Linked DNA regions of Homo sapiens: region 2 is linked to region 1. A link means that fine-mapping ties the variant in region 1 to the expression of a gene that starts in the linked region. Tissue or cell type: lung. Region 1 holds a variant in brackets; the other region holds the start of a gene. All regions are shown on one strand. Distances are between the middles of the regions.

Region 1 (4,178 bases):
ATGTGAGTGACTGACCTGCAACAAAAGGTGCATGGACAGCCTCGCCAGGTGTCTACTATTAAAGTGAGGGCATTTACTGGAAAAGAATGGGACCCTGCAACTTGGAATGGTGACGTGTGAGAGGACCCTGACGAAGCTGGGGACACTGAGCTTGTAAACTCTGATGAACCCTTTTTACCAGAAGAAACAGCTTCCTCATCCCCAGTAGTGGCAGCATCCCCTCCCCAACCCATGCTGCCATCATCCTTTCCACCTTTGTTTGAGGAGATATGCTGCCTAAGGCAACAGTGATGGCGTCCCCTGAGGCCGGTGCCTGGCAAGACACCCAGGACCCACCTCCAACACCCTGTGAGCTTCTAGACCTATAATTAGACTAAAGTCCCAGCAGGCTCCTAGAGGTGAGGTTCAGAGTGTGACCCACAAGGAGGTGTGCTACACTCGAAAAAAACTGCTGAGTTCTCTAATTTATATAAGCAGAAATCTGGAGAACAGGCATGGGAATGGATATTAAGGGTGTGGGATGATGGTGGATGGAACGTAGAGTTGGATCAGGCTGAATTTATCAATTTGGGCCCCCTAAGTAGGGATTCTGCATTTATGTGGCAGCTTGGGGAGTTAAAAAAAGGTTCTAATAGTTCATTTGCTTGGTTAGGTGAATTGTGAATTAAAAGATGGCCCACTGTGAGTAAGCTGGAAATGCCTAATCTCCCTTGGTTTAATGTAGAGGAAGGGATCCAAGGGTTTAGGAAGATTGTGATACTGGAGTGGATTAGTCACTTTAGACCTACTCATCCCAGCTGGAAGAGTCCAGAAGCTATACCCTTAGCGAAATGGATTTGTGAGGGCAGCATCTGCATCTTGGAAGAGCTCCATAGGGATTGCTTTTCTCTGTATGCCAGATCTAACTGTGGGAACTGCAGTCGTTCAACTACAAAATTTAAATGCAGTGGGAATAATTGGATTCCAGTGTGGCAGGGGCCAAGTGGTGGCACTCAACTGTCAAAAGCAAGGTAAACATAGCTACCATAATGGACAGCAGAGGCAAAGCAGCAATCAGAATAGTTTGACTTGTGTAGAGCTCTGCCATTGGCTAATTAATCATGGTGTTTCTAGAAGTGAAACTGATAGAAGCCTACGGCATTCCTACTTAATTTATATAAGCAGAAAACGTTCAGGTCAAGTGGACAGAAAACTAATTTGAATTATAAAAACAGAATCATGGCTCCTCAATTTCCAGACTTGAGCTAGTTTACAGACCCAGAACCCCTTGAATGAAGGGGAGGCCGGGTCCCCTTGAAGAAGGATCCCTCTACCGACAATTTATGTGTAAATCTTTCTCCCTGCTTCCCCAAAGGGACCTCTGGCCTTTTACCAGAGTAACTGTGCATTGGAGAAAGGGAAATGATCAGACATTTCCGGGACCATTGGACACTGGCTCTGAGCTGACGTTGATTCCAGGGGACCCAAAACATCACTGTGGTCCTCCAGTTAAAGTAGTGGCTTATGGAGGTCAGGTAATTAATGGAGTTTTAGCTCAGGTTTGACTTACAGTATCCATCGTCAAATGGAAGTGGTATATACATGATCGGGCTTGAGCAGGTCCTGAAGGCACAAGTAAGTTACATGAGGAAGTGGCTCAAACGCCCATGGTTTTCACTCCTGCCACCCTGCCTTCTCTCCCCCAGCCTGCACTGATGGCCTCATGGGGAGTTCCCTATGATCAGCTGACAGAGGAAGAGAAGACTAAGGCCTGGTTCACAGATGGTTCTGCACAATATGCAGGCACCACCTGAAAGTGGACAGCTGCAGCACTACAGCCCCTTTCTAGGACATCCCTGGAGGATAGCGGTGAAGGAAAATCTTTCCAGTGGGCAGAACTTCAAGCAGTGCACCTGGGTGTGCACTTTGCATGGAAGGAGAAGTGGCCAGATGTGTTATTATATACTGAGTCATGGGCTATAGTCAATGGTTTGGCCGGATGGTCAGGGACTTGGAAGAAGCATGATTGGAAAACTGGTGACAAAGAAATCTGGGGAAGAGGTATGTGGATGGGCCTCTCTGAGTGGTCAAAAACTGTGAAGGTATTTGTATCCCATGTGGGTGCTCACCAAAGGGTGACCTTGGCAGAGGAGGATTTTAATAATCAAGTGGATGGGATGACTCGTTCTGTATGCACCACTCAGCCTGTTTCCCCAGCCACCTGTGTCATTGCCCAATGGGCCCATGAACAAAGTGGTCATGGTGGCAGGGGTGGAGGTTATGCATGGGCTCAGCAACATGGACTTCCACTTACCAAGGCTGACTTG[G/A]CCATGGCCACTGCTGAATGCCCAATTTGCCAGCAGCAGAGACCAAAACTGAGCCCTCAAAATGGCACCATTCCTCTGGGTGATCAGCCAGCTAGTTGGTGACAGGTCGATTATATTGGACCTCTTCTATCATGGAAAGGGCAGAGGTTTGTCCTCACTGGAATAGACACTTACTCTGGATAGGGGCTTGCCTATCCTGCACATAATGCTTCTACCAAGACTACCATATGTGGACTCAAGGAATGCCTTATCCACTGTCATGGTATTCCACACAGCATTGCCTCTGACCAAGGCACTCACTTTATGGCTAAAGATGTGTGGCAGTGGGCTCATGCTTATGGAATTCACTGGTCTTACCATGTTCCTCATCATCCTGAAGCAGCTGGATTGATAGAACGGTAGAATGGCCTTTTGAAGTTACAATTACAATGCCATCTAGGTGAGAATACTTGGCAAGGCTGGGGCAGAGTTCTCCAGAAGGCTGTGCATGCTCTGAATCGGCATCTAATACATGGTACTGTTTCTTGCATAGCCAGAATTCACAGGTCCAGGAATCAAGGGATGGAAAAGTGGCACCATTCAGTATCACCCCTAGTGATCCACTAGCACAATTTTTGCTTCCTATTCCTGCAACATTATGTTCTGCTGGCCTAGAGGTCTTAGTTCCAGAGGGAAGAACACTGCCACCAGGAGGCACAACAGTGATTCCATTAAACTGGAAGTTAATATTGCCACCTGGACACTTTGGGCTCCTCCTACCTTTAAGTTAACAGGCTAAGAAGGAAGTTACTGTGTTGGCTGGGGTGATTGACTGGACTATCAAGATGAAATCAGTCTACTGCTCCACAATGGAGGTAAGGAAGAGTATGTGTAGAATACAGGAGATCCCTTGGAGCATCTCTTAGTATTACCATACTCTGTGATTAAGGTCAATGGGAAACTACAACAGCCCAATCCAGGCAAGACTACAAATGGCCCAGACTCTTCAGGAATGAAGGTTTGGGTCTCTCCACCAGGAAAAAAAACCATGACCTGCTGAGGTGCTTGCTGAAGGCAAAGGGAATACAGAATTGGTAGTAGTAGAAGAAGGTCATCAATACCAGCTACAACCATGTGGCCAGTTGCAGAAATGAGGACCATAATTGTCATGAGTATTTTCTCCTTTTGCTAAAAACATATTTGTACATTTATACACTTGTATTAAGAAAATATCTTCATTGTATCGGCATTTAAGTGTTGTTAACTTTATGTAATAACATTTGGGTTGGGGATTGGTGCGTCTCTGGTTGTACGAAGGATAGTTGTATTATGTTAGGCATAATTATGACCTTATTATTGTGTTTATTTGGAGATTATGATCTCAGGAGATGCATATGGGTTCAGGTTGACAAGGGGTGGACTTGTGATAGTTAATATTGATGGTTAATACACACCAGGAGGTTCATGAGAGGAAGCCAGGCACTGCACTAAGTAAGTGAAGCCTTATACTAACACTATTCATCTCTGTATCTTTGATAGTTTGACCCTGTTCCTCAAGGATACATAGTATGCCATACCCTTCTTAGGCAGCTACACAGACTGGAGTATTTTATATTTTAAAAGTGATACCCAGAACAAAACTACTTGCTGATGTTGATGATGGAATTAAATAACTGAAAGATGGTTCGTAAGCCAAATATTGAAATTTTGCATAAATTAAAAAGCAAAACATTGAAATCTGAAACACCCTGACTTTAAGATTTGAGTAAATCCATCCTATATTCTGTACAGAAAGAATCAAAGCAATGTATGAAATTGTTTCACAGGTTTTTTCAATTATGTACAAAATGCTTATAAAGTTAAAAGGTGCATCATTTGCCACTTAATTTCAAT
Region 2 (4,178 bases), 110 kb before region 1:
GGGACATGGATGAAGCTGGGAGCCATCATTCTAAGCAAAGTAACACAACAGAAAACCAAACTCTGCATATTCTCACTTATAAGTGGGAGTTGAACGATGAGAACACATGGACACAGGGAGGGTAATATCACATACTGGGGCCTGTCGGGGCGTGGGGGAAAGGGGAGGGAGAGCATTAGGACAAATATCTAATGAATGCAGGGCTTAAAACCTAGATGACGGGTTGATAGATGCAGTAAACCACCATGTTTACTGTAACCACCATGTTACATAGGTATACATAGGCACATGTATACCTATGTAACAAACCTGCATGTTCTGCACATGTATCCCAGAACTTAAAGTTAAAAAAAAAATAGTAGGATTACTAAAAAAGCAGGATTACTGGCGGTTGGCAGAGGCCTTTTCTTGAGCTCAGGAATGGATGATGCCACTGAAAGAGCAGATGTGGAAATAAATTCTGGAAATGTTTCGCATACCACTTGTAATGCTGTTTTTAAGATAATTGCTTGGGTAAATAAATTCCTTATACATTGACTAGTAAAGAGATACTCAACTTTGTACATTTGATGCCATATTCACTTGCTGTCTAACTTATGTTACCATGGCATTAATTTAGTATAAATAAAAATGCTCTAGGTCTACTCAGTGCTGAGCCTTGAAATCTCAGCACTCAACATCTCTTATCCACTAAAGCACACACTGTTGTTTACACGTGGAAGACTGACTATGCAGCCAGTCTAGTAAGCAAGCAAGCAAGCAAGCAAGCAGGGTCCTAGATATTAAAAATGACCATTCCTGTAAACCATCAAGCCACAAATCAACAAGCTTAATCACAAAAGTTTCTTGAGGGAACAAAGTTGAAGTAATATCCATTGAGTCATTGTGGAACTATCTGTACTTGTGGTTGATTAGCCAGGTAAGCTGGTTTTTCCTCAGTTTCCTCACCTGTTAAACAAGAGGCAGAATGATGTTCTCTCTAAAACACTTCTTGCTTTGAAATACTATTACTCTAAATAAGACTTTGGAGAAACTCACAAAATACATCCTTGTTAACTCTCAATAAGCCCAAACAATATTCCAGGACCCCACAAAACCAGAAAACTAACAGGACCCCTTGTAGACCAGTCTCTTTGTGCAACGTAGGGAGAAAGGGCGGGGGGGACTAAAGAACCTCCCAAAAGGTATTAAAAATAGCAACATGTAATTATGAAAAATCTTGTTCCACATTAGGTAGCCACATTCAAGAAAAACTGTTGGAGATCTACTATGTCCAAGGCACGGTTTAAGTTATTACTGTTCAATTTTGAAATTATTATTGTTAACTTGTCAGTAATTTCTTAAACCTAAACTGGTGAAACTCTCCTTGGGTGGACATAAAAGTAAAGCCATGGCCAAGGAGGGAGACAGTCTACAAATAAACCAAAAATAAAATACAAGTGACATCATTAAAGGAAAAAAGCCAACACACTGCACAAAGATCAAAGACAAAACAGAGAAACATGTTTGGTTAATACTGGGCTTTGAGTATTTCATGTGCCTGAGAGGCCCGTCCGTCCATCCACACCACACTTCTTCACCATGCTGTTGCAAACCAATGACAAGTTCAGCTTCAGCGCGGACAGGGCGCAGGGCGCAGACCCTGTGCATATCCCAGAATCCCGGACCCACTGCCACTCCACTCTGGGAAGGAAGAAGGCGCTCCCCCTTGGGTGACTGTAAGATAAAGCAGCTTCTTCGATCTCTTTGTCCAATAAGAAAGAAACGTTGGCCCATAAAGAAAGAAAGAAACAAATAAATAGGAAAGGTGTGAGAAGGAAGGGAAGCTCCTTTCTTTTCTGTTTAAATTTCCCGCACCCTTTTACCTCCCCGCCTTCTCAAACGGTCTTTACTTTGAGCAGCAGAGACCCGGACCGCTCAATACCCGGCTATCCCTGGGAGGGTACTTGGAAAGTAGGCGGGACAGGCCGGATGAATAATTCGGTGTCCGACTTTTCCTGCCTGCGGCGCAGTCCCTCCCCGGCTTCGTTACTCGAGTGCACACGCGGCCGGGCTCTCGGCCCTCGATTGCTTCAGCCTATCACCCTGGGATGCCGCCTGCCGCTGCCGCCGCCGCCGCCGCCGCCACCGCCACCGCCACCGCCACCGCCACCGCCGTGGCTGCCGGGTTTGTGGGATCCGCCGCGGAGCAGGAGCCAGAGCTGTGGCCGGAGCTGTGGCCTGAGAGTCAGGGGGCGGGCAGGCTCATTCCAGAAGTGGGGGCCGAGGACAGGCGGGCTAGAACCCGGGGCCACCGCCCCCTACCCCTCCTCAGGCTGAGGGAACGGGCACTCGGAGCTTCTGAGGCGGCGGCGGCGGGAGCCGGTCAGAGGGGGCGGCCCCTGGCGGCGACGCCCCCAAGCCCAGCCCTGCCCGGCCCCGCTCCATCCCCAGCCAGAGCCTGGTCTGACCGCGAGAGACGCCGGCGGGGCTGAAGAAGGCGGCTCCGAGGAGGTGGGAGGGCGAGCCTCCCCTCCCGGGTTCTTCTGCGTCCTCTCCCGGGAGGGACCCACACACACCTGAGCCCGGACCCACCCTTGGTCGGGGCCACGCTGGATCCTCCTCCCGGCCTGGGTCCCGCCCGCCGACTGCAGGTGGGCTGCATCGCCCGAGCCTCGGGCAGTGGGCGACGGGGAAGGAGGTGAGAGGTGTCCGCGCCGGCTGCCGCTCGGGTCCCTGCCCTCGCTGCGCGCTCTCCTCCTCCCCTTACCGCAGGCAGGGCGCGGAGCCGCGCGCCAGCCCGCCCCGAAGCCGCCGCCTCGTCCCCCTCCCGCCTCGGGGCACCATGGAGCTCTCTCCGTCGTCCGGAGGAGCCGCGGAGGCGCTGTCCTGGCCGGAGATGTTCCCGGCGCTGGAGTCCGACTCGCCGCTGCCCCCGGAGGACCTGGACGCGGTTGTCCCAGTCAGTGGAGCCGTCGCCGGTGGCATGTTGGATCGGATCCTTCTGGAGTCCGTGTGCCAGCAACAGAGCTGGGTCCGGGTGTACGGTAAGGACCACAGGCCGTCTTAGAGGCTGGTGTTTCCTATTTTTGCTTGGGCTGAAATTCATTCCCTAAGTCACAGGCTCATTCCCAGTCCTCATCCGTGCTAGGTCAGTTTCCCACATCCCTTTTTGTTCTGGGGGTGCATTTCTGACAAGTTTCTTCAGACTATCACTTGGGCAGGGATGTCACTCAGTATGGTCTTTGGACCTCTTCAGACACCTGCAGTAAGTTTAATGCGGGAGTTGGGCTATCCAAGACGTAATTCTTAGGCGATTACTTCAAGGGAACAGCCAGGCAATCAATCTTCAAGAAGGTATGATGGAAAAACTCCATGAAACCAAGTGAATGGATTTTCGTCTCTTTTTATTGTTGAATGAGGCAAGACTGGAAACCAAGATATTATGAAAAAGCAGAGGATAAGCTAATGAATGAAAAAAATGCAAACTATGTATTTGGTGGGAGCAAGACTAATCTATAACCTCTGCCTGAACCTCACTCTCTCTAAAAGCAACCACTTATTCCAACGGGTGTGGATTGTTTCAGATTACACTATTGTTTCTGAATCTCGTTGTAAAGTGACTGGGTTGCCACTCAGCAGGTTAAAAGTGATGAACACACTAAAACTTTCCCTTTCTGCATTCCTGGTAACCACCTCTTTAATTAAAACTGAATGATGAGATTCTATTAGGGTGAGCCTTGTGGCAGCACTAAAACCATGCTGGTTTTGAAAACTCATAGCTTAAGGATTTATAGCCTGGCATTCAGGACTGAGCTGTGGCTTTCCAAAATATTGAAACGGCAAGATGTTTATCGCCTAGCTCACGTGACTGCAGAAGACATTAGTAACGTGGCTGAGTATAAGATGGCAAATTTGAAGCACCTGGGATCAAACACAATGTTAAGATGTTATCCTGCAGTCTTGTGCATCTAAGCCTGTAGTGATCAAGTACCTTATGTTTTTTTCTTTCATCTTTCTGAACAGGGTATATGCTTACTATTCAAGAGTGACCAAGACTTAGGTTTTTTTCTGTGTAGTTCAGTTGATTTGAAGACTTAATGTCCATCGCAAAGATCATAGAACTAGGAGTCCAGAGATCTCAGTTCTTGTCTCAGTTCTACCACTAAATGGCTATGGGATTTGGGGCAGATCGAGTC

The links. PIP is the estimated chance that this variant, and not a neighbour inherited with it, causes the effect.
Region 2: RASAL2-AS1 starts here. The variant in region 1 is fine-mapped to the expression of RASAL2-AS1 in lung (TOPMed, PIP above 0.99). The same link has a PIP of 0.9 or more in subcutaneous fat.

The regions. Positions count from the first base shown.
Region 1 is chr1:178,200,638-178,204,815 of GRCh38, forward strand. The region is part of intron 1 of RASAL2 (RAS protein activator like 2); the gene reads left to right. Among named protein-coding and RNA genes, the nearest start is that of RASAL2, 110 kb to the left of the region's middle. The variant G/A (reference allele first, on the strand shown) is at 2,307.
Region 2 is chr1:178,091,669-178,095,846 of GRCh38, forward strand. It overlaps RASAL2-AS1 (RASAL2 antisense RNA 1), which reads right to left and starts at 2,325. Exons shown (of 2, transcript NR_027982.1): 1 at 1,893-2,325; 2 at 1-1,744. RASAL2 (RAS protein activator like 2) reads left to right here and starts at 2,436. Exons shown (of 18, transcript NM_170692.4): 1 at 2,436-3,026. The coding sequence starts at 2,825. RefSeq lists an enhancer at 1,912-2,413 and silencers at 2,035-2,084, 2,135-2,434, 2,505-2,664, 2,815-2,874.